Homo sapiens: one gene and its partners. The protein of the gene in region 1 purifies or fractionates together with the protein of each later gene. This does not show direct contact. Each region holds a gene or a part of one and is shown on either strand. Other genes may lie near its edges.

What was found.
Region 2: the proteins of PYHIN1 (region 1) and CBX5 purify together in Homo sapiens (affinity purification with mass spectrometry; 2 studies listed by BioGRID and IntAct, with this or other methods). This does not show direct contact.
Region 3: the proteins of PYHIN1 (region 1) and SUPT16H purify together in Homo sapiens (affinity purification with mass spectrometry; 2 studies listed by BioGRID and IntAct, with this or other methods). This does not show direct contact.
Region 4: the proteins of PYHIN1 (region 1) and PLCD1 purify together in Homo sapiens (affinity purification with mass spectrometry; 3 studies listed by BioGRID and IntAct, with this or other methods). This does not show direct contact.
Region 5: the proteins of PYHIN1 (region 1) and DCAF1 purify together in Homo sapiens (affinity purification with mass spectrometry; 5 studies listed by BioGRID and IntAct, with this or other methods). This does not show direct contact.
Region 6: the proteins of PYHIN1 (region 1) and LGALS3 purify together in Homo sapiens (affinity purification with mass spectrometry; 3 studies listed by BioGRID and IntAct, with this or other methods). This does not show direct contact.
Region 7: the proteins of PYHIN1 (region 1) and CTCF purify together in Homo sapiens (affinity purification with mass spectrometry; 2 studies listed by BioGRID and IntAct, with this or other methods). This does not show direct contact.

Annotation. Positions count from the first base shown.
Region 1 is NC_000001.11:158,934,552-158,938,051, reverse strand, and holds part of PYHIN1 (pyrin and HIN domain-containing protein 1 isoform alpha 1), read right to left. Parts: intron 1,162-3,500; 5' UTR 1,142-1,161; coding exon 877-1,141; intron 1-876. UniProt on the Homo sapiens protein: Major mediator of the tumor suppressor activity of IFN in breast cancer cells. Promotes ubiquitination and subsequent degradation of MDM2, which leads to p53/TP53 stabilization.
Region 2 is NC_000012.12:54,270,123-54,273,622, forward strand, and holds part of CBX5 (chromobox protein homolog 5), read right to left. Parts: intron 1-3,500. UniProt on the Homo sapiens protein: Component of heterochromatin that recognizes and binds histone H3 tails methylated at 'Lys-9' (H3K9me), leading to epigenetic repression. In contrast, it is excluded from chromatin when 'Tyr-41' of histone H3 is phosphorylated (H3Y41ph).
Region 3 is NC_000014.9:21,353,020-21,356,519, forward strand, and holds part of SUPT16H (FACT complex subunit SPT16), read right to left. Parts: intron 1,522-3,500; coding exon 1,392-1,521; intron 814-1,391; coding exon 684-813; intron 547-683; coding exon 469-546; intron 1-468. UniProt on the Homo sapiens protein: Component of the FACT complex, a general chromatin factor that acts to reorganize nucleosomes. The FACT complex is involved in multiple processes that require DNA as a template such as mRNA elongation, DNA replication and DNA repair.
Region 4 is NC_000003.12:38,026,843-38,031,112, forward strand, and holds the start of PLCD1 (1-phosphatidylinositol 4,5-bisphosphate phosphodiesterase delta-1), read right to left. Parts: upstream 2,801-4,270; 5' UTR 2,698-2,800; coding exon 2,664-2,697; intron 1-2,663. UniProt on the Homo sapiens protein: The production of the second messenger molecules diacylglycerol (DAG) and inositol 1,4,5-trisphosphate (IP3) is mediated by activated phosphatidylinositol-specific phospholipase C enzymes. Essential for trophoblast and placental development.
Region 5 is NC_000003.12:51,402,516-51,406,015, forward strand, and holds part of DCAF1 (DDB1- and CUL4-associated factor 1), read right to left. Parts: intron 881-3,500; coding exon 628-880; intron 1-627. UniProt on the Homo sapiens protein: Acts both as a substrate recognition component of E3 ubiquitin-protein ligase complexes and as an atypical serine/threonine-protein kinase, playing key roles in various processes such as cell cycle, telomerase regulation and histone modification.
Region 6 is NC_000014.9:55,139,252-55,142,587, reverse strand, and holds part of LGALS3 (galectin-3), read right to left. Parts: intron 2,314-3,336; coding exon 2,225-2,313; intron 5-2,224; coding exon 1-4. UniProt on the Homo sapiens protein: Galactose-specific lectin which binds IgE. May mediate with the alpha-3, beta-1 integrin the stimulation by CSPG4 of endothelial cells migration.
Region 7 is NC_000016.10:67,607,526-67,611,025, forward strand, and holds part of CTCF (transcriptional repressor CTCF), read left to right. Parts: intron 1-3,298; 5' UTR 3,299-3,307; coding exon 3,308-3,500.

The DNA of each region.
Region 1 (3,500 bases):
CTCCAGATAATCTATTTAAATTACAGAAACTAGTGAAAGGAGATGTTAAATAGGTTTGTGAGGTGAGATATGGTGAGTTTTGACTTTTTTTCTTTTTTTTTTTTTTTGAGACGGAGTCTCGCTCTGTCGCCCAGGCGGGAGTGCAGTGGCGCGATCTCGGCTCACTGCCAGCTCCGCCTCTCGGGTTCACGCCATTCTCCTGCCTCAGCCTCCGAGTAGCTGGGACTACAGGTGCCTGCCACCACGCCTGGCTAATTTTTTGTATTTTTTAGTAGAGACGGGTTTCACCTTGTTAGCCAGGATGGTCTCGATCTCCTGACCTCGTGATCCACCCACCTCAGCCTCCCAAAGTGCTGGGATTACAGACGTGAGCAACAGCGCCAGGCTGAGTTTGTTTTAATTATTTTAACTCAATAACATGACAAGAGGGGAGGTCTTCACACTTCCGGGAGCAATGCTTACATTTAAGTATTGTTATCTTTTGTATTATAAAGGATGATGGTGTGTTGAATATTCTCAATAGAATGAACACATTAATTGACTAAATGTACATATCTCAGATATAAACAACAATTTTTATAATTTTATTTTGTCATTATGTAATCTTTCGAATGTACTAGAAGTCTCAGTCTCTCTTCAACTCCCTCTCCTTTTTGTTCTTTTACTGCACCTCAACTCCGATATACGTCAATCCACTTTAGTAATGGAATGCCATAAGTTGTCAACTTGTTGGCATCTGAAGTACCAACATTGCCATGGCCAGTGAGTCACAAATTGGGAAAAGGATGTATCAGCTACGACCAAGGTGGCGTTCTAATCAAGGTTGGGAAGGGTGGGGATCATTGCAGGGAGTGGGTGTTCCCTCTTCCCAATTACCTTTTAACTTTTCTCTTTTAAGAGTTTCAGCAAGGTCTCCCAGTGTTGGTATTTCTTTGAAGAATTCTATTAGTTTGCCCAAACCGGCATCACCTGGGAACTTTTCCTCCATCAAGTCAGCAATCTGAATTTTGTCATACTCTTCTTTCATTTTTGGATTAAGTTTTAAATCGTTACTCAGTAAGGACTTAACAATTCTAAAATGATAATCATTGATGACCTCTAATCCTTTCAGTAGAACAATTTTCTTGTAGTTATTTGCCATCTCTAAAGATATAAGTGAGCCTGCAAGAGAAAAATGGTATATAGTGTTACACATGTATACAGAGAATTTAAAAGAAGATGTATGCCTATGTGAATAAGTGGCCCATAAGAAAGAGTTGTTCATTGTGCCAGTTTTCAAAGGGAATTCTTCCAGTTTTTCTCCATTCAGTATGATATTGGCTGTGGGTTTGTCATAGATAGCTCTTATTATTTTGAGATACGTCCCATCAATACCTAATTTATTGAGAGTTTTTAGCATGAAGGGTTGTTGAATTTTGTCAAAGGCCTTTTCTGCATCTATTGAGATAATAATTTGGTTTTTGTCTTTGGTTCTGTTTATATGCTGGATTACGTTTATTGATTTTTGTATGTTGAACCAGCCTTGCATCCCAGGGATGAAGCCCACTTGATCATGGTGGATAAGCTTTTTGATGTGTTGCTGGATTTGGTTTGCCAGTATTCTATTGAGCATCAATGTTCATCAAGGATATTGGTCTAAAATTCTCTTTTTTTTGTTGTGTCTCTGCCAAGCTTTGGTATCAGGATGATGAAGCTGGAAACCATCATTCTCAGCAAACTATCGCAAGGACAAAAAACCAAACACCGCATGTTCTTACTCATAGGTGGGAATTGAACAATGAGAACACATGGACACAGGACGGGGAACATCGCACACTGGGGACTGTTGTGGGGTGGGGGGAGGGGGGAGGGATAGCATTAGGTGATATACCTAATGCTAAATGATGAGTTAATGGGTGCAGCACACCAACATGGCACATGTATACATATGTAACAAACCTGCACGTTATGCACATGTACCCTAAAACTTAAAGTATAATAATAATAATAATAAAAGAAAGAGTTGTCCATGAATATGTGTGATAAAGAAGGACTTAATGACCAAATGAGTTACTGTAGAAATTGAGTGAAGAACTTTTGCTTTAGGAATGTCCAAGTAATTCATCCCATTGAATGAGGATAGTTGAATTGGGTCCAGGTGTTAGAGGGAGGTCTGTGAACAAGCAATTGTCTCAGTGTTTAGAGTATGGGCTGTGGAGTGTCAAAGTGCTTGGTTGCTCTTCCCATCCTTTACTGGGGCTGGAGCCTATCCCCCAAAACCTGCCTGTTGTTTCTTAAATCTTCCCACACCCACCACTATGACTGGAGTGGCCTAGGTGTAAATGGGCTGCAGCCTCCCACCTTATATGAATAACTTTCTGCCGCAGCACTACAGTTTCATGCTGGGGCGCCGACCCTATTCTCCTTAACTCTTCTCTTGTCAGCTCTCATCAGTATCCTCTTCCTTGGTGTTGGACCCTGCCATATTTGTCCTCTGTGCCCATAAAACTATCACTTTCCTGAACATCTACATTTTCTCTATTGCAGGAACACAGGATTTATTGGCTGGAATATTTCAATAGTTGCTTGATTTTTCTTTTAGGCTTGATTTGTCTAATTCATTTTCATTTCACAGATCCACATTTCTCTCTATAAACCACATTTTTATCCCACTGAAATCTTTCAATATTTGCCCATTTTCTTTTCAATACATTCCTTGCTTCTTGTATTGTTTCAGAAGACTTTGAATAATCTGCATTCTTTTTTTTTTTTTTTTTAACCTCTGGCACTTGTGTGTTCCTTATATCTTACATTTCAGAAGTATAAAACATTTTCATGCTTCATGACTTTGCTAATTCTCTTCTCATTGCCTGGAAAGCCATTCCCACATTCCTCTATCTGACTGCCTCTCCTACAACATTTTAGACTCAACTGAGAGTTTGTCTTCTAGAAATTTTCAGAGTGCCCTTATGGACAGAGTGTTACTCCTCTGGACCTCTTTAGCACCAGTGCACTTTAGCACATGATGACACTCAAAGCATGCTATGGATTCCTGTTTCCTTTTTAAATTAACATAGCGCTTTGGGAGGCTGAGGGAGGCAGTTCATGTGAGGTCAAGGGTTCAAGACCAGCCTGGCCAACATGGTGAAACCCCGTCTCTACTAAAAATACAAAAGTTAGCCAGGCATGGTGGTGGGTGCCTGTAATCCATAATCCAAGCTACTCAGGAGGCTGAGGCAACAGAATTGCTTGAACCCGGGAGGTGCAGTCTGCAGTGAGCAGATATCATGCCACTGCACTCCAGCCTGAGTGACAAGAGCAAAACTCCACCTCGATAAAAATAAATACAAAAACAAATATTTTAATTATAGAAAACATGTATTTGTGTACCTCTTGTGTAATTTAGATATTTAAATTCCTGGGGCTGTTAATTGCTTTCTTCTTGAGAGAACATGAGTGTCCTCAGATTGATAAGCATAGAATGAAGGAAAAAATATATACAAAGACATATAGTGAAACTG
Region 2 (3,500 bases), on another chromosome or scaffold:
AATTGCTGCTTTTATCATTACTATTTTCTTGTTTATTTTGGATTTAATTTGTTCTTTTTCTAGGTTCACAGGGCCAAACCTGTCAGTGACCTGCTTTTGTTGTTAAAGTACTTAATGCTATAAATTTCCCTTTAAGCACTTCCTTAACTGCATCCCACAATTTTGTTTTGTTTTTGAGATAGGGTCTCTGCCACCCAGGCTCAAGTGCAGTGGCAGGATCATAGCTCACTGCAGCCTTGATCTCCCAGGCTCCAGTAAGCATCCCACCTCAGCCTCCCAACTAGCTGGGACTACTGGCAAACCACCACTCCTGGATACTTTTTAATTTTTTCTAGAGACTAGGTCTCACTATGTTGCCCAGGCTGGTCTTGAACTCCTGAGCTCAAGTGATCCTCTCGCCTCAGCTTCTCAAAGCGTTGAGTTTACAGGAATCAGTCACAGCACCTAGCCTCATTCTAAAAGTTTTGATATATCATCTTTTCATTTTCATTCAGTTCCAAGTATTAGTTTTCTTTGTAATTTCCTCTTTGTAGGTGGGTTACTTAGAAGTGTGTTGTGTAATTTCAAAATATTTAGGGATTTTTCTTGATGTCTTTGTTACTGATTTTTTATTTAATTGCACTATGATCAGGAAATAAACATACCTTGGCCAAGCACAGTGGCTCATGCCTGTAATCCCAGCACTTTGGGAAGCTGAGATGAGAGGATCACTTGAGCCCAGGGGTCTGACACCAATCCGGGCAACATAACGAGACCCTGTCTCTACAAAAAAAGAAAAAAGGGTGGGTGGCTGAGCATGGTGGCACATGCCAGTGGTCCCAGCTTTTCAGAAGGCTGAGGCAGGAGGATCACTTGAGCCCAGGAGTTTCAGGCTGCAGTGAGTTGATTGTGTCACTGCACTCCAGCTTGGGTGACAGAACAAGACCCCGTTTAAATTTTTTTAAAAAACCTTTATGATTGAATCCTTTTGAATTTGAGACTTATTGACCCAGAAGGTAAACTGTCTGTGTAAAAGTTCCATGTGCACCTGAAAAGCACATGTATTCTGCTGTTGCTTGTACTATTCTATAAATGTCAATTATATCAGGTTGTTGGTAGTGTTGTTCAAGTCTTCCGTTTCCTTACTGATTTCATCTACCTGTTTTATCAATTACTGAGAGGCACTGAAATTTCCAAATATAATTGCAGATGTCTGTTATTTCCTTTTTCTTTTCTTTTTTTGAGACGGAGTCTTGCTCTGTCACCCAGGCTGGAGTGCAGTGGCGCGATCTCCGCTCACTGCAACCTCCACCTCCCAGGTTCAAGCGATTCTCCTGCCTCAGCCTCCCAAGTAGCTGGGATTACAGGCGCACGCCACCATGCCCAGATAATTTTTGTATTTTTAGTAGACAGGGTTTCACCATGTTGGCCAGGCTGATCTGGAACTCCTGACCTCAGGTAATCCACCCACCTCAGCCTCCCAAAGTGCTGGGATTACAGGCGTGAGCCACTGCACCTGGCTTGTTACTTCATTTCTGTTTTCCTTTGTGTATGTTGAAGCTTTATTATTAGCTTTTAGGACATTTAGGATTGTTATGTCCGCTTGATGAATTTATTCATTTATTATATAACCTGGTGTTTGTTATTTGCCCTATCTCATAAGTCTATTATGGAAAAACAATAGGAAAATACTTTGGAAAATATATAGGAAACAGAAGGAAAAATGTTTAATAATCAAGGAAGTTAAAAAAATTTTAATGAATTTTCTTTATTATCTGTAAGTCTTATCCATGCTTGTCTCTACTTACATAAATGAGGTTTGCTATGTTTTATCAGATCTTAGGCATAATTTATTGTTGTGAAACACTGAACAAATTAGCAGTATATTACCCTCCACAACTCCCTGTGAGGTGAGTTGCACAGATTTAGGGATGAGAAACGAGGCACAGAGAGTTCAAGGATTTGTCTTAAAAACAAAACTTAAGATTTCCCAGCCTGTTAGTTGACCTCTTTAGTACAGGGCATTTTATTCCGACATAATTATATTTTATTCTGACATAATTATGCCCTCTGGCTCAGATATGAACTTGCTTTATTCTAAGAAACATAGATTACTATCAGAAAAATACTTGAATCCAATTTGGTTTCTCCTCTCCACAGAAGAAATAAATAATGAGTGTGTTATAAAACCTGATCTTGAAACGGTCCTTTCAAGTACACCATCTCAAGCTCATGGCTTTATCTAGTGTCCTTCCTAGCAATGAAACAGGATGGAACAGGCATTCAGTGAGTCTGAAGAGTAAGACTGCAAGTGAAAATTTTTACTCTATGACCTAGTTTCAGGTAGAAAAAAATCTGTCAGTGTTTAATTTTGATGAACTACTACTACTGGAAAGAAAATTCAGGCTACACAGTCTATAGTCTCACTAAAAATGTAGTGAAAATGTTCCAGCTAGTCTATTACATCCCTTGTAGAAAATCTTTTCTTCAGAAAGGTTTAAGCACACAGCTAACAAATACAGGTTAGTTATCCTGTGTTAATACCCCAAGGAGTTGACAGTCAGCCAACAGCTCAGTCTTCCATCCTTCAAGTCCTAGGCAAGAACAGGACTACCCTCACCCAAAATGTTGTAATTTGTAATGTTTTGATTCACATTTTAAATTATTGACTTAAAAAACAAACTCCAAGATGACTTAGGAATCACTTCATAAAGTCTTAGGTCTAGAAGGCTTGTTAACGATCACTTATCCAACTCCTTCCCTATAAGATAAAGAAACTAAGGACTAAAGAGGGCAAATGGCTCACCCATGGTTACACCATTAGATAATGGCAGAGGCAGGACAAGAACCCAGGTTTCTGAGCCTTTTTTCACTTGCCTCTGTTTCTTTAAAAATAACATTTTCTTTTCTGAATTAGCTCAAATCTATTTGGGTAGAGGTTAGGGAACCAATGTGTAGTGGTCTGAATGATGGCCCTCCCCCAAAGAGATTCTTATCTTAATCCCTTGAACCTGTAAATGTTATTTTATATAGCAAAAGATGTGATTAAAAGATGAATCCGGCCGGGCGCGGTGACTTATGCCTGTAATCCCAGCACTTTGGGAGGCTGAGGCAGGCGGATCACCTGATGTCAAGGGTTCTAGACCAGCCTGGCAAACTGGTGAAATCCTGTCTCTATCAAAAATACATAAATTAGCCGGGCACGGTGGCAGGCACCTGTAATCCCAGCTACTCAGGAGGCTGAGGCAGGAGAATAGCTTGAACCTGGGAGGCGGAGGTTGCAGTGAGCCAAAATCACACCAATGCACTCCAGACTGGGTGACAAAGCGAGACTCTGTCTCAAAATAAACATGAATCTACATTTTTTTTTCAGGGACCTGCCACTTTAGGAATAAAATATATTTTAAATCTGCTCTCTCAGGTTGAATTAAAAGATAGGATTGGAGAAATTTATCCTGGTTCATCCAAGTGGTTTCTTAATTGCAATCATATGTATCCTTATAATACACAGGTAGAGGGAG
Region 3 (3,500 bases), on another chromosome or scaffold:
ATTCCCAATGCTTGGAACACAGCAGTTAATATTTATTTCCTTTTAAGCTTTAAAACGTTTGTTTGGGGTTTGGCTTCAGAGTAACTAGATTAGCATTATAAAGACATGCCTAACCTGGAAGAAGCCTAGAAAATTAAAGTATTATAGGATTTAGGTTTGGAAACTGAGTAGGCTAATTCTTGAGTATTACATGAATATGTGGCTATCATGGCTATAGGAAAGATGGGGGCTTGCGCAGATGAAAACAGCATCCAGTTTGGCAGAGCACTGCCCACTGGAGAGTATGGACACATTCCACACCTCATTTTCTCCTTCAGTCAATGAAGTTGTATCTGTGGCTCCAAAGCACTTTTATAGTGTTCTTTTGTTACTTTCATTACGCCATCAATACTAACACCTCAAAATATTGAAATGTGTTAGAAATTTGTGCGTAGACAAATGAATAAAAAACAACACATTTTTAAAAACCTTTTCGGGCTTCTTCCTCCAGTTCATCCCAATCCTTTCCACTCTCTTCTTCACTACCCAATGACTCCTTAGAATAGTCTGGAAGAAAATTAATTAAGCGTTAGTCATCATGCGGGAACAGAATGGAACGACAGAGTTCTTAGTCTAAAAAAAGTAGTTTTCAGAAATGACATTAGATTAGGAAGCCAGGACGAACTTTGCTCTGTAAGACTAACCTGACTCTTCTGCTTCTGATGAATAATCTTCATCACTGTCCTCCTCTTCCTCTTCATAGTCATCTTCTGAAGGATTAAAAGTCTCATCTTCAATTTCAGACTCTGAATCCCCTTCTTCAGCATCACTCCCCTGGTGAGTTAGAGCATAATACTGATTTTTTTTTGACATTTACCTTATTAACTTAATGAATTAATTCAGCCCACATAGTATACCAGTATTTACATGAAGAAAACAAGAGCAAAATAATCTGAGGGATCAAGAGATAAAATGACTTGTTTAAAATTAGTGGTCAGGTGCAATTATTATTTTACTATTATTATGTATTATTACATTTCTGAAAAATTCACGTTAGCCTTCCTCACCCAGGGAAATTAACAACAGAAAGACTTTCTGTATTTACGTATCACACAAACGTTAAGTGGATCATTTTTTAAAAAATAATTTTTGCAAAATGCCCTGAAGGATTTTTCCCTAAATGCTAAGAAACTCATTGAGGAAAAGTTTTTGTAATTTCCAAGAAATCTTGTCAGGAGTTAGTTACCACTGCCCAATCAATTTATCAATTTGAAGAAACAATAATATCAAGTGGTGTTTAGAGCTTCTCCCAGATGGCCTAGTCCCTTATGTACTACTCATATTCCATTCTAACTGACCAAATGATAGCGGGCAACACTGTGTACCAGAAAAGAAACCCCACACTCACGCACCTCACCCTCAGGCTCCAGGAAAGACCAGCCACCTTGTTCGAAGAAGCCCTCAGGGTCATCAACAATGGTCTTCATGATTTTAGTCCAGTTGAGGGACTGTACTCCTTCTGTGTATTTCAGGTCGCAGGAACTAAGAGAAATGACATGACAAAGTCAAATCAATCTTCTGTATTTTCCATATATTCTTTCTTCTTTTTTTGAGACAGAGTCTTGCTCTGTTGCCCAGGCTGGAGTGCAGTGGCACAATCTTCGCTCACTGCAACCTCTGCCTCCTAGGTTCAAGTGATTCTCCTGCCTCAGCCTCCCGAGTATCTGGGATTACAGGCGCATGCCACCATGCCTGGCTAATTTTTATATTTTTAGTAGAGACAGGGTTTTGCCATGTTGGTCAGGCTGGTCTAGAACTCCTGACTTCAGGTGAATAACCTGCCTCAGCCTCCCAAAGTGCTGGGATTACAGGTGTGAGCCACCGCGCCCTGCCTGGGAGCAGATATTCTTTGCACTATGCCACCAGATCATGTCCCAATGGCTGCTATTTGATCTCCTAGAGCACTAGCCCTCACAACAGACCAACATTCCAACTGAAACAAGCTTTCTCCTTCACCTGAGTCTGAGCTCATCCTCTCCCATTTTCTTCCTTAAACACCAATTTCCCTCTTCTTCACTTAGTCTTCTCTCCTATTCACCCATGCTTTTCCCTCTCTGTCACTGATTCCATTCTTATTTCTAAGTAGTCTTAACTCATAACCACTTCTGCGATTCTGTTTTTCACTATTGTAGTTAAGAAATAGGGACAATTTTCAGCCGGGTGCGGTGGCTCACGCCTGTAATCCCAGCACTTTGGGAGGCCAAGGCAGGCGGATCACGAGGTCAGGAGATCGAGACCATCTTGGCTAACACGGTGAAACCCCGTCCTACTAAAAATACAAAAAATTAGCCAGGCATGGTAGCACGCGCCTGTAGTCCCAGCTACTTGGGAGGCTGAAGCAGGAGAATCGCTTGAACCTGGGAGGTGGAGGTTGCAGTGAGCCGAGATCGTGCCACTGCACTCCAGCCTGGGCAACAGAGTGAGACTCTGTCTCAAAAAAATATATAATAATAATAAAAAAAAAAAAAAAAAAAAAAAGAAAGAAACAGGGACAATTTTCAATGGCCCTAGCCTTTCTTCTTCAACCTTTCACTGCTTTCCTATGTGTTGTTTATTTGATGCAAAATCTGTATGAAGGTAGGAACAAATTTTTTTTCCCAGTACCTAAAGTGCCCTGTATTTAGACAATGCTCAAATGACTTTCTCTTTCTCACTTCTGTTGAGGAGGGCTGAATCAGTTAAGAGTGGGTAAGAAGAAAAAAATCAAAGAAATGACAATAGTAAGGATAAAAACAAACAACCATAAAATCTGCCTGAGAACCACTGGCATAAATCCACTTTAGACAATATACACGGCAACTTCTGCTTCCAGCCATGATGGAGTAACAATGACTAGATTTACTTTCCCACCTTAAACAACTACAAAACAAAATATGAAACAACAGTTTTCAGACATTGGATAAAAAGCAGCACAAGACCATAATCCCTGAAAGAAGGAAACAACAAGGGTTAATTGAACATTTGCCCCAGTTTTCTGTCTAGAGGCAATTCCTAGCCTGCTATGCAGGGAGGGAGAATCCACCACAACCTGATGGTCTCCAGGAACTGAGACAAAGTAGGATTTGGGAAGGCTGGGACAGCTAGAATTTGTGGAGAAGAGTACAGGAAGGAAGAGTTTCCCAGAGAGAAAGCTCCAGAGATCTGCAGAGGGGTCCCCTCAAGTCTTTGGTGGAGGGATGATCTACACATTCATGAGAAAACTGGAACTGCATAAAGAAGCACTGGAAAGCAGTAGGACAGACAACTCCCAATCTCACACAGAACTAGAAATAAATCGTGTTCCAGTGGATTTATTTCCACCACCTTTCCACCAGCTTCAGCAGAGAGATCTCACAATCCACAGGGCATCAGGCAGACTCTGAAGAGTATTGCCTCGTAGTAAGGCCAATTACTTGGAAGTTTTTGAGTGAAACTTTTAAAGGCTGTTCTAAATCCACACTAATAGACATTTGAGAACAAGC
Region 4 (4,270 bases), on another chromosome or scaffold:
ATTCTCAGACCCACAGTAAGTAGAACCAAAGCTAGGACTGGAGCCCAGGTCTACTGGGGCCAAGATGAGGCCCCTCTATTTTCTGTTTTTACAAACGGCACCTCTTGCAGGGGTGGGGGCAAAAGGGATTGGGTGTAGGAAAAGTTAGTGTGTATGTGGGGGGTGTTCAGTGAGGGGAGGGCCCTGGGAGGTAATGTCCTTTGGGGCACATCGGGGGACCTGCTAGAGAAGCCAGTCCAGGCATAGCCAGAATAAAGAGTGGAAGAAGTAAGGTGAAGGAAGGAGGATGGATGCTGTCGCATCAGTCTGAGGGCTTCAGAGGCACTAGAAAGAGCTGGCTGGCTCGCTCTTGAATCTAGTTCTGGCCCTATTTTCCATGACTAGGAACTACCTTATGATGCCCCCATCATCTCCCAAAGAACTACAGATGGCAACTCATAGGGCATAGAAATTTGGGGAGGGGGCCTCCTGCAGGAACATAGTACTCACTGGGTACCAGGCACTGTTCTAACTGCTGTGTAGATATTATCTCATTCAATCTTCGTAGCAACCCTATGAGGTAGATGGTATTATCCCCCATTTTACAGATGAGGAAACTGACACACAGGGAAGTCAAGGGATTCATCTGAGATGAGAAAGCCAAGACTTGAACTCAGGTACTTTGCTTTCAGAATCTATGCCAGTAAACTACATTACTTCTGCATGCATCTGGGGTGAGGACAGAAGGGACATGTCACATCTAGGTGAGCCGCATAGCTCCCCAGGCCAACAGAAGGAGTCCCTCTGGGCTCCTTCCAGAGAGTGTGGAGCCCTAGGCCAGAGAGTGTGGTCCTGCAGCACATCCAGTGCTGGGGCACCCACACTGTGAAACGGATGCAGACTCTCCAATGCAAGTGTAGACAACCTGGAACAGCACAGGGCACAGTGATCACCCCCTCCCACCAACAATTCTCCTTGACAGGTTCTTATTTCCCCATCTGGTTTGCAGTGTGGACAGAAGGCAGTTGAGGTAATTTTGGGTGATGAGCTAGAAGTGGCAGGGCCTTCAGGGAAAACAGCTTGGGGTCACAGTGTTCATGTCAACCCTTCAGGAAAGGCTGGACTGAGTTAGGCATTTGGGAGGCTGGTCTCAAATGGGGTGGGCCAGGGCAGCCAAGCCTATGCCACAGGACTGGGAGGTCCTGACTGAGCCTCCATGTGTCTTCCTCCATGGAAAAGATATCAAGGCTGCCTCAGGAGAGAAACTGGACAAAGGCACAGACACTGAGGATGAAGCCTGTTCCAACAGGAGCCAAGGAATGACGCTGTGTCAGAGAGAAAGCAGAGATGTCCACTGTGTCCTCTCAGCTGCCCAGCCTCCCTTCTTGCTAGTCTGGCAGGCGCACGAAAGACACCTCTGGCCTGAAGAAAGAAGAGGGAGCACTGGAAGGGGCAGGGACTCCATGACTCATCTAGACAAGGTGGCTTTAAGGAGCCTAGGCTATTGGTGTAAAAGCAACAGCTCTGGGCACAGAGCAAGGTCTCTCTGGGCCAGGAGGACCAGGTCTGTGCCAACTGCAGAACACGAGATAGACTGGAGGCTGGCTGATGGGAACATCTCTAAGTCCCTCTAAATTCCAGGGGGACTCTAGTGGAAGGCTAGAGGACTCTGCCCTTCTCTTTCCCATCTATTATGTCCATGAACAGTTTAGATGGATGGGTGGTGGCCACTAAAGCCTCCAACCCCAAGGGTACTAAAAAAGAGAGGGATATACAGTAAAGCAGTGATTGGTATGAAAGGAGCAGGGTTTGCTGAGATGGCAAGTGACCTGGGAGGGCAGGAGGGCAAGCCCCCACCAAGAGTGAGTGAGTGCCTGTCCTGGAGCAAAGAGGCGCCCAAAGTTACCCTCCCCAACCTCCCGCCTCCCAGAAGGCCTCCAGATCTGCCTTCGGGAGCCCAGGCTCCCCTCGCTGCTGGAGGGACAGCGAAAGGGCAAAGAGCTGGCTCATATTGGAGGAAACAAAGCTCCGCTGGACAAAGGATGGAGCAGGCAGCTCCGGCTGAGACCTGGCCCTGTCCCCCGAGGAGGGTCGCAGATGAGGGGATCGTGCTGCTTCTTTCAGCCTGAGCATCGCTGACTATTCTGCGCTGGGCAGTTAAGGCTGCACGGCCCGACCACGGTTAACCTTGCACACCTCCTCTCCCCACCCGCTTAGCCCCTGCTCCGCCACACCCGCGCGGCCTGACGCGGTCCAGGCACGCCCAGGCTTTGGGGAGCCTCTGGGGCGGCCCGGATGGGGCAAGGAGAATTTTGGTCGTTCTTGGATGCTGTTTCCTTCCTTCGCCGCCCCTCCGTGCGAGCGGGATCGTGGAGCCCAGACTTTCATGACCAGGACAAGGGGGTCCGCGAGGCGGAGGGAAGTCTTTAGACCCGTACCGCCCGCCCACCCACCCCCCGGGCTAGATCTCGGACAAGCCTGGAAACGCCCAGGGTCGTGCCCGGCAGTCCCACCCAGGGAGCCGCGGGCTGAGATTTTCCCAGTCCGGAGAAGGGGCAGAGAGGCGGGCCCGGGGTGGTGTGGAGGCGGCCGAAGGAGCTGGGGGCTCCCTGTCCAGGGCCCGGAACAGCTTTCCAGGGGTCCACCCCTGCAGGGTCTCCCGCTCGCGCGGGCCAGGCACTCACCGTGCAGGGTCAGGAAGTCCCGGCCCGAGTCCATGCCCGACGGGCGGCGCGGCGGGAGGGGCACCGCGGGACTCACTTGAGTAGCGACAGCACCGGCGGCCTGGGGTCCGAGCGGAGTGCGGTGCAGGGACCTGAATGGACCGCGGTGGGAGGAGGCCGGGGGTGGTCCCGGGACACCGCCCCGCCCCCGCTGCCCTGCGCCCCCGCCCCCTGAGCCCGCCAACCCTCGTCTCTCCCCGCCCCCTTCTGGGGACGCGAGAGGGAGGGCAGAGCTGGGGGCCCGGAGGACTGGCCAACCCTGGCCCGGGCCAGCGGGCGCGCCCCGACCAGAAATAGCCAGATTCCTCCAGCTTCCTCCGCCGCCGCCACCCACGGGCCGCGGGCCCTGTCATTACCGCGGGCGGCCGGGCCCCACGCCCTGTTGTGGGCGCCTCGCTGGGGTCGGGGTGATGCTGGAAAGAATCCGGCGTCATCCCGGGGAAGGGATCGTGTAAGGTCCGACGCCCAGCCGGGCTGCTGCGCTAGGGAGACGCGGCGTCCAGGCTTCCAGCCGCAGCTCCCAGCGTTCGCATTCCCTTCTGCGAAATGGGTGCACGGACACGATTAGAAGGTCTTCAGAGAGCAATACCTGGACCTTGTCGGGAGGAGGGTCCCCTTCCCTCTCGCTGGGAGGTTTCTAACCCCAAGAGTGCCTTTGGTGGAGTGTTGGGGGTGTGGGAGGGGGAAGCAAGCAGGTGCACGGATTTCACTTTTGAGCCACTCATATCCCAAAACCCCAGCGATCCATGCAGCCGAGGGGGAGGATCCCCAGGGTCCCTTCTTCAGGTGGCCTCCCAAGGGGCTGTCTGGGCAAGGTCCCTATGCAGACCCACCCCCTAACTCTTGGGACCCAGAAAACCCCCTTTATAGGTTGCCCAGAGACCCCTCCCACCACAGACCCTGGGAGGGTCCCTAGATCCTGTTGCCCACCACCCCTTTGGAGAGTCCCTTGGGAAAACTGGGCTCTTGGTGTCAGAGAGCCCCCAGAGGGCCTCCCAGGAAGCCACCCAGGCCTCCTGGGCTGATAAGGCCAATGTGAGAGTCAGGCAAAGCTAGTTGGACCAGCTCTGCGGGGAGGGGGCTGGGCTCACCCCAATCCCTCCTCTTCTGGGCCCTAGGTGGCCTTGAATAAGGGATGTGAAACAGCTGAAGGACAGTCTTCTGGTTCTGGGGGTTAAAAGTGGATCAGGACTTCTGGGCTTTGGAGAGCCCCCTGCTCTGCATGCCCCCTCTCCACAGACGGGGCTTCACCCCTTACCTGGCACTCAGCTCCAATCCTGTCCTGCAGTGCGAACACCCCTGCCCTGGGCAGGCCTGTCAGTTCCTTCCTTGGTTTCCCTTCTGCCCAGGGCCACACTCCATGTTTGCTGAGGGATGAGCAAATTCATACTGGCAGGCATCACTCTGGACCTCCATACAGGGGATGAGTGGGGAAGAAGGGTCCCCTTCTCTGCCCTCTGGAGGCCTCCTCAGGCCTTGGAGCCTACCACTTGCACCTCTGATACTCCTGGAGCCTGCAAGCCCCTGTACTCAGCAAATCAGGCCTCCTCAAGCCCCCCTCCTCTTCC
Region 5 (3,500 bases), on another chromosome or scaffold:
ACAACAGCAGAGTTGAAGAGCTGCAACAAAGGCCATATACCCTACAAAGCATTTTTTTTTTTTTTTTTTTTTTTTTGAGATGGAGTCTCACTCTATTATCCCAGCCTGGAGTGCAGTGGCACGATCTCGGCTCACTGCAACCTCCGCCTCCCAGGTTCAAGCGATTCTCCTGCCTCAGCCTCCCAAGTAGCTGGGATTATAGGCATGTGCCACCACGCCCAGCTAATTTTGTATTTTTAGTAGAGACAGGATTTCATCATGTTGCCCAGGCTGGTCTCGAACTCCTGACCTCAGGTGATCCACCCGCCTCAGCCTCCAAAGTGCTGGGATTACAGGCGTGAGCCACCGTGCCCGGCTGCATAAAATATTTACTGTCTGATCTTACAGAAAAAGTCTGCCAATCTCTACTTGAAAGATAAGAAATGACAGCCATTTGGTTGGGTTCCACAGTCTGACAGGAGAGGAGGGCAGAGATGCAAAGGTGCTTTGCCTCAAGAGACCAGAGTAGTGAATCAAATTATGGGGCACAGAACCGTGGTATGGCTTGCCCTCTAAGTTGTATGGGCACAAAAGAAGGGATCTTGCCCTGGGTGCCAAGGCTCAGCCTGAACTCTGCCCTATACTTACTGTCCCCCAGGATCAGTTCCACCTCCTCATCTGCATCAGAGTCTTCATCCTCCCCGTCCTCTCCCTCCTCTAGAAGGTTTGCTAGCTCCTCATCAGAGGGAGAGAAGTCATTGTCCCCATCTTCCCCTGCGTTCTCATTATTGTCGTCCTCCTCCAACTCCGCCTCCAGCAACTGGTCAGTGTCAAGCTCATCTAAATCATCGGTGTCATCATCATCTTCATCATCATCTTCTTCCTCCTGTTCTTCCTCTTCCTGGTAAGAAAGCGTAATGTTCATTAGTACAAACACAGAGGCCTGACCCATGGGGGCCACATGGCGGGTCGACCAAAGAGACAGGGTAGGAAACTGTCAGTAGAGGGTAGTAGTGATCTAGACGAGCACAGACTTCATGAGCCAGCCAGACTTGTCAGTGATGGCTGAGATAGGCACACATGTCCCTCAAGACGGTCAAAGCACCCCTCAGACAAGGATTAATGGTCACATAGCCCTTATGCAAGGAAACAGACAACTCGCTTCACAGAAGTCTCTGCCTTCAATATTCTAGGAGCCCAAGGGGACTCTTCTTTCTCACCTGCATCAACCAAAGCAAGTGAAATCAGCTGAGACACTAGAAAAAATCCTTTTACCTGGAATCTAAAATGCAATGCTTTAACAAAATGGAAGAACACAACTGCTCATTATCTCCTCAGCCCTTCAAGCTCTTGCCCTTGATCTTCTAACCAAGAATGTGGATAAGCTCCTAACTATGCTATCACAAACATTTGATCAGAACAACATTGCAACAAAAGACTTAAAATATAGAACACTAACAGAAACCCATATTTCCTGTCATAAGCCAAAAAGAAAAAAAAGTATGCTGGAGAAACTATCTTTCTTTCCATTCTTACAAGAACTTGCAAAGGCAAGAAAATTACCAGAACATCAATGAAATACTTTGTTCTAGGGACTCTGGGCTTTGTAAATGGTACATTCTGGCATCTGCCACAGATTTCAGGTTTGCATTAGAATCCCAACTGTTTCCCTTCAAAAGGGAGAGGACACAAAGATACCTCTTTGCTTTGACAGGGATAAGAGGCATTTCCAAGTAAACGTAGCTGCCACTCAAGACACTTATCTTTCTGCTCAAACATCAACTGTCAGCCTTGCCAATAGCAAAGGATTCTAATTGTTACAATAATAAAATGTAAAATTCATTTAATACATCAACCTAATGAAATTCAAGATGGAATAAGCCCAACGTAAGCACAAAAAAATTTTTTTTGTTCTTATTATTTTAAAACTTATACTCAGTGGTTACATCTTTTTTCATTTTGAAGGTGTTATTGCCTGCCAAGCACTTAAAAAACAAGCATTTTGTGCTTACCCAGCCACTAGAAACCAGTGTGTAACATAAGCTAGGATCATTCAGCAGGGTAGCTCCGCTTTGTGGACTTCTGGTAATTTTGGAACCACCATTAGTGACTTTTTGATAAACTGTGTAATTCAGTAATTTAGACTCTTCAAAATTTCTGCCAGTTATGTTGGAAAAACTGAGCCCCTTTTAAATACCTAGTACTCCTAATACTTGTGCAAGTGCGTGTATGGTCTGTACCAGATTCGGTGGGAGCATTTGTGTATGTGCCAACACACACACACATAGAAGGCCTGAGACTATTCCAAAGCCTTGGCCACACATCCCCTCCAGAGGTGAGTGGATAAATAACTACTAAGCATTCACCCGCCTCAAAGGAACTATGAGTGTCTGGAGTCAACAATGATAAACTGAAACACAGACAGGCTCTCAGCCCCTACAAGCACATAAGCTCATACAAATAACTGGGAAAGGAGAGCGGGGTCAAAATTCAGGGGATATCATCCAAGTGCTTACCAGATTACAACTTTTGCCTCTTTTTCCAGGCGTATTTTCATAGACTTGACCAAAATTAGCTAATCCACTAACAAAGTGCCACAGTTAAAAATAAGTAAGGAAGAAAGTACCCAGGGCCCTGTGTCTTAAGGCTTCGTGGACAGAACACTTATATTTAAAATTTAAGATAGCACAACTAAAGGTCCACGGTTGAGTGTGTACATGAAAGGTTAAACTGCTCAAATAGGCATGGGCTAGCCAGAAAATTCATGAAGACAATTCTCTTTCATTTTGAAGAACATTGAGGCTTAGCTGATCTAGAAGAACTGAACAAAAAGCTTCCATATCAAGAGCAATCCTGGAATATTTTCAAGCAGGGTCTAAGCTTTGAACTAGATACCATTCCAAACTCTTCCAGCAGCAGACAAACCCAAATTTTACTTAATTTTATAGCAGAAGAAACAGATGTATATATATTCATCCCAGAAGGCCACAAACACATATGTGACCATGAGAGAGAGGAGGGGAAATTAGTAGGAAAGAGATCTACCTGAATCTCAAGTTGAGCACCTCACTTTGTCGTCTCTACTTTGTATTTAATGCCCAATGCTGATTTCTCACCATGCATTTTGTCACACATGGACATAGCCATAAACTCACTTTCCAAATTTTAAATCTGAAACTGGGATCATGAAGCAGAGGCTCACAAGACTCATCCAAAATGCTGTGGCAGAACCCAAAAGAGATTCTAGGAAGCAATTTTAGGTGCATTCTCTGCTGGTCAAGTAACTGGTGGCATGAACCCCTCTCCTTCAGATCTAAAGAATAAAGCTTCCAATAATGAGTGGTCCAAAAAGTAAAAACTAAAAATAATTATTTAATGAAAAAGCAAAGCTTAGCTGGGCACAACGGCACACACCTGTAGTCCCAGCTACTCAGGAAGCTGAGGCAGGAGGATCACTTGAACCCAGGAATTCAAGGCTACATTGAACTACGATTGTGCCACTGCACTCCAGCCTGGGCAAC
Region 6 (3,336 bases), on another chromosome or scaffold:
AATTCTGTTTTAAACCAAAGACCAGTTATTAAAATGATTAAAGCTGTACATTTGCACTGTGTAAAGAACATGTAATTTTCTAAAAAGCAAATAATTTCATAATACAGTACCTAGGAAATTTTTCTGAATGGAAAGCAAATAAATCAGAATGGGTTCAAACTGGAAAATATCCTATGCCTGATATTCTATGTACTATCACAAAATCTAAAGGTAAGCAAGACAATAGATGTTGAATTTTTTGCCTCATTGTCTTCGATCATATTTCCATTCATCTGTAATGCCCCTACAGACTCATGAAAACCCTTCGAGGTTTTCTTACAGAGGTTTAGAGCCACTCTGAGGACACTTTATCCCTTACTATAGATAATGGTTATCTCTTTCCTGCTCTTCCAGTTTGCTTTCAATACCTGGTAAAGGCAAGCCAGCTATATAGTTAACAGCCATCAAATACCTGGCTTCCTCATAATTAACCAGAAGCCCTAGTTCCTCTAAAACAGCAAGAATGAGATAAGGTAGTTAATATTCAGTATCTTGTTGCTAAGTTGTAAAGTCATGATAGTAAATGTGGTAAACATTCTATGATGTGAGCCAGAACCAATGAAATTGCTAGTTTAGCTTTTTGACCCTGTTCCTTCTCCCTGGAGGTTAATGCAAACACAAGTCCTCTTTGACTAACCCCATCCCTGAGTTTCTCAAAGTGCGCTCTATAGAGCGGTAACACCAGAGTCATCAGTAGGTATTCGTATTTTAATCTGCACTCTAGACCAACTAACAAAGATTGTCTGTGTATTTTGATTCACCCAGTAACAGTCACATTCAACCACAAATGATCTTCCAGTGATTAAATTTGTAAGGAAAAAACAGCATAGAATTTGTATTTGACTAAATATACAATGTTGTCATCTCTGTCACCTTAAGCACTTTTTTTTTCTACACAGTTCGTCATATAGAATTTGCAGGACTAAGCAACAGTTTTTTTTAAGTTTACTACCATTAACCATTTCAACCAGAATTAGTTTTGATCTGCCAGTCTCAATCTACATCTCTAGCATTATTAGAACTAAACTTTCCAGTGAAATGACTCTAACAAGACAAGGATACCAAACTGGGTATTCAGTGTGCGTTAGGGGTTGTGGGAGGAGGAGAGCAGATATTTAATAAATCATGAGTGCTGTGTGCACAGGATAAGGTGTGCTGGGTTCTATGTGATGTTGGGAGGAAATACGGATAAGGACATAGGTAGAGGATGTATATATTTTGTAATTTGCTATGAGACGGGCATTATTGTACGGGGAAGTTCTGTGCTTACAGAAATTGTCTAGGCTGTGTGGAAAGATGGGTTGGCTTAGGATAGTGACTACCATTGCAGAAGCAGAGGAGGCTGGCTGAGGTGGAGGGAATGAGCATTTGAATGTGAAATTATCAGATCAGAAGTGAAGTCCATCTCTTGATTGCAGGATGTGGAGCAAGGTGACAGACACTGAGACTGTTTATGGATTCTTGCATAAACCTGTGTACATGGCTTGAATTTGTGCCATTTAGGTACTGTCCATAAGACCTAGAGACAGTTCCACTAACCTTAGGGGCAGGCATCTCAGATGGTTTCAGGACATGGCCAGCTTCCTTGTATGATATGTAAGTACTACATAACCAGTGGTGACAACCAGGGCCAAGCAGCCCAGGACAGCCATAATTAGCATGTATTTTCCTAAATAAAGCCTCACCCCATCCTAGCCCACCTCATCAATCAAACTACTTCCAATAGTAAAGGTTGATTTATAATGATGAAGTTTTTAACTTGTAGAATCTCTTCAAACCCATAAGCAAATAGTATCTGCTCAAAAGACGGGTTCCCAGGCCTGCCACTGATCATCTGTAGAACCTGAACCTCAGTTTTGTCTATAAAAAGGGGAGAGCAATATTCCTTATCCTGCCTTCAGCCATGAAGATTAGCTGACATAATACATATCAAAGTATAGAATAAGGTGTGTTACCGTTTACTATGAGTGCCATGATGCTTAGCAAAATTATATGGGAATATGTATGGATTTATGGGATAATCCTATATGATGGTATAGCCAAGATTCTAAATATGTAGTTTTTAAAATTTTACTAAAATTCAAAATAGCACTGTAAGACAGGGCAAGAAGAAAAAAAGTAGGCCATTCTTTATTCAAAAACCAATCTACAAATAGAGTAGACTTGTTAATTTTGCTCTCCTTACCTGTTTGCATTGGGCTTCACCGTGCCCAGAATTGTTATCAGCATGCGAGGCACCACTCCCCCAGGCAAAGGCAGGTTATAAGGCACAATCTGGGAATTAACAAGTACATATGTGTCAATAAGGAGTCATGTTTCTTTGGGGAAAAAACGATGTTGCTAAAGTTCCATCACTATTAATATGTGTGAAAAACACATAACTCTAGTATATGCCATCTGTCCAGACTCTCAGGCCACTTTGCCCAGGGGCCAAAGAGATAAGGCTCCCTAGATGTACAAATAATTGAAAAGAAAGCCATCAGTAAATCTCATTACTACGGCCATCCCAATTTGTACTCATTCATGTTGACTATTTTTGGAAAGGCTTAAGCTAGATCTTGTGATCAACATTAACATTTTTGTATCACTCTTAAGGCCCTGTCATGGTACATGCTTTACTGTGGATATTCTGCTTCCTGGGGGCAAGCAGCATATCACATTCTGGGCTTGTGGGTTCTCATATGCTTTGTACTCACATGGCTCCAGCAGAGTGCTTTGCATATGGCAGATACTCAATATTTATGGAATGAACACTGTTAACACTGTGAGGTTCATTCCACAAATGTTTATTGACCAACTACATTCAAGGTACTGTGAATATCCCCAAAGCTCTATTTATTTATGGCCTCTTTTCTTTCCCTTTTTAAGACTTCCCCCTGGGTTTAACTATCACCCAAACCTTTTTATTTTTTGAGACAAGGTCTCAAAAATCCGAGTCTCAGTTGTTGAGGATGGAGTGCAGTGGTGTGATCATAGCTCACTGCAGCCTCAACCTCTTGGACTCAAGTGATCCTCCTGCCTCAGCCTCCCACAGTGGTGGGATTACAGGCATGAGCCACCACACCCAGCCTATCCAAATATTTTCTTTCTAGTCCTGGTGTGTACTAGTCCTGTACTTCCTCCCACCTAGATTTGCTGCTAGTGCCTCAAATTCAACAAGTGTGAACTAGAATGGTCTTCCCTACCCCCTCCCCCATCAGTTCCCCTTCATGAGTTCCCAGTTTGGGCTAAAGCTTTGCTGATGGCTCTAGTTGCTCAGCCTTGAAAAGTCAGAGTCCTCTATGACTCCTAAGACAT
Region 7 (3,500 bases), on another chromosome or scaffold:
GAACTCCTGGCCTCAACTGATCCACCAGCCTTGGCCTCCCAAAGTGCTGGGATTACAGGCGTGAGCTACCGTGCCCGGCCCATTCACAAGATATAAGAGCCAAAAACTATGAATTGGCTGATTTGTTTTCTGCTTTCTATTATATATTCAATTTGGTTGGCATTTATTGAGTACTTACCATCCTGGGCACAGTGCTAAAGAGTAAAAACCGTGGCTGGGCGTGGTGGCTCACGCCTGTAGTCCCAGCACTTTGGGAGGCCGAGGCGGACAGATCACGAGGTCAGAAGTTCAAGACCAGCCTGGCCAACATAGTGAAACCCCGTATCTGCTAAAAATACAGAAAATTAGCCAGGTGTGGTGGTGGGCACCTGTAATCCCAACTACTCCGGAGGCTGAAGCAGGAGAATCACTTAAACCTGGGAGGCAGAGGTTGCAGTGAGCCAAGATCACGCCATTGCACTCCAGCCTGGGCGACAGTGCGAGACTCCGACTCAAAAAAAAAAAAAAAGTAAAAACCGGTTGGGCGCAGTGGCTCACACCTGTAATCCCAGCACTTTGGGAGGCCGAGGCAGGCGGATCACGAGGTCAGGAAATCGAGACCATCCTGGCTAACATGGTGAAACCCCGTCTCTACTAAAAATACAAAAAATTAGCCGGGCATGGTGGTGGGCGCCTGTAGTCCCAGCTACTCGGGAGGCTGAGGCAGGAGAATGGCGTGAACCTGGGAGGCGGAGCTTGCAGTGAGCGGAGATCGTGCCACTGCACCCTAGCCTGGGCAACAGAGCGAGACTCCGTCTCAAAAAAAAAATTAAAAAAAAAAAAACGACTTGTTAGATGTGGTTCTTATTCTCAGGGAATTCCTGATCTCATTGTCAGGAGAGAGGTGAATGTCAAGTTGATGGTATGACATGGGCAGTTTTGTGCAGTGTCTACAAACACGGCCATTGCAGTCTGGATCTAAGTTCTGAGTTTGGCTTCAAAAAACAAGGTCAAAAACCCTTGACAGGGTGGGGAAAATGGGGAATTGCTGTTGAGTGGGTATAAAGTTTCAGTTATGCAAGATGAGTAAGTTCTAGAGATCTGCTACACAACATAGTTCCTGTATTAATCGTATAGCATTATGCACTTTGAATTATGTTGAGGATGGATCTCATGATAAATATTATCACCAAAAACAAAATACAAGGAAATTTTGGAGGTGTATTTAGTGTTTTTTTTTTTCTTTTTTGAGACGGAGTTTCGTTCTTGTTGCCCAGGCTGCACAGTACAATGGCGCAATCTTGGCTCACCGCAACCTCCACCTCCCGGGTCAAACGATTCTCCTGCCTCAGCCTCCCAAGTAGCCAGGATTACATACAGGCATGCACCATCACACCTGGCTAATTTTGTATTTTTACTTAGGACGGGGTTTCTCCATGTTGTTCAGGGTGGTCTCGTACTCCCGACCTCAGGTGATCCACACACCTCAGCCTCCCAAAGTGCTGGGATTATAGGCGTGAGCCACCACGTGCTTAATAAAGCTACCTTAATAAAGCTTTTTACAAAACATTGGCAGACCCGGGCACAGTGGCTCAGTCACATGTATAATCCCAGCACTTTGGGAGGCTTAGGTGGGAGGATTGCTTCAGCCCAGGAGTTCAAGGCCAGTCTGGAAATGTGGCAAGACCCCATAATTGCAGAAAATTAAGCTAATTCATATATGCATCATCTCACATCCTTGTCATTTTTTGTGATGAGAACACTTAAAAATCTGCTCTCAGTTATTTTCAGGTATACGTTATTATTAACTGTAATATTCATGTTGTATAATAGATCTCTTGAACTTATTCCCACTGAAATTATATGTCCTTTACCAGTGTCTTCCCCACTACATGTGTAAGATTTAAATTAGTTTTGTTAGTAATTCTTTAATATCATCAGATATCCAGAGTTGAAATTTCTAATTGTCTTGTGTCACATCTTTTTCACCATTTATTGGTTTGAATCAGGATCCAAAGAAGATTCATGCATTGTGATTGATTACTGTCTCTTTAAGACTCTTTTATCTGTATCAGAGTTTCTCAGCCTCAGTGCTCTTGACATCTTGGGCCTGATAATTCTTTTTTTTTTTTTTTTTGAGATGGAATCTCGCTCTGTCGCCCAGGCTGGAGTGCAGTGGCGCGATCTTGGCTCACTGCAAGCTCCGCCTCCCAGGTTCACGCCATTCTCCTGCCTCAGCCTCCCAAGAGCTGGGACTACAGGCGCCCACCACCACGCCCGGCTAATTTTTTTGTATTTTTTAGTAGAGACGGGGTTTCACCGTGTTAGCCAGGATGGTCTCGATCTCCTGACCTCCGGTAATCTGCCCGCCTCAGCCTCCCAAAGTGCTGGGATTACAGGCGTGAGCCACCGTGCCCGGCCTGGCCTGATAATTCTTTGTGGTGGAGGACTGACCTGTGTCTTGGAGGATGTTTAATAGCATCTCTAGCTTTCACCCACGAGATAACAGTAGCACATCCCAGCCCAGTAGTGACAACCAAAAATGTGTTAGCCAAATGTTCCTAGAGGCAAAGTCACCCCAGGCTGAGAACTACTGATCTACTGGTTCTCCCTCCAATCAGTCTTCCCTTGTATTCTTCTTGTTATCTATTTGCAGAAGAACCTGAGTATAATCTTGCAGTGTTTCCCTCGGTATGGATTTCACTGATTTAATCCCTGTAGTATAATTTAACATCCTGAGTCACCAATTTCCTGTTAATTGGGTTGGATCTAGAGACTTGATTGGTTTCAGAGTTTTGGAGTTTGTTTGACAAAATTGCATTATAGGTAGTGGTTTTTTCTTTTTCTTTTTTTTTTTTTTTTTTTTGAGATGGAGTCTTGCTCTGTCCCCCACGCTGGAGCGCAGTGGTGCAATCTCGGCTCACTGCAAGCTCCGCCTCCTGGATTCAAGCTATTCTTCTGCCTCAGCCTCCCGAGTAGCTGGGACTACAGGCGCCCGCCACCATGCCTGGCTAATTTTTTTTGTATTTTTAGTAGAGACGGGGTTTCACCGTGTTAGCCAGGATGTTCTCGATCTCCTGACCTCGTGATCCGCCCGCCTCAGCCTCCCAAAGTGCTGGGATTACAGGCGTGAGCCACTGCACCTGGCCAGTAGTGGTTGTTTCTTTCATCAAGAGGCACATGTCTGTTGTGTCTTTTTTAATATTAACAACCATTGATGCCTAATTCATTCACCAAAGGGTCTTTTTGTTTTAAAATGTATATTTTTATTTAGACATGCTTTGCTTTAAATAACAATCTGTGTTCTCCCTTAATAAAGGCAGGGGAAATGGAAGGTGATGCAGTCGAAGCCATTGTGGAGGAGTCCGAAACTTTTATTAAAGGAAAGGAGAGAAAGACTTACCAGAGACGCCGGGAAGGGGGCCAGGAAGAAGATGCCTGCCACTTACCCCAGAACCAGACGGATGGGGGTGAGGTGGTCCAGGATGTCAACAGCAGTGTACAGATGGTGATGATGGAAC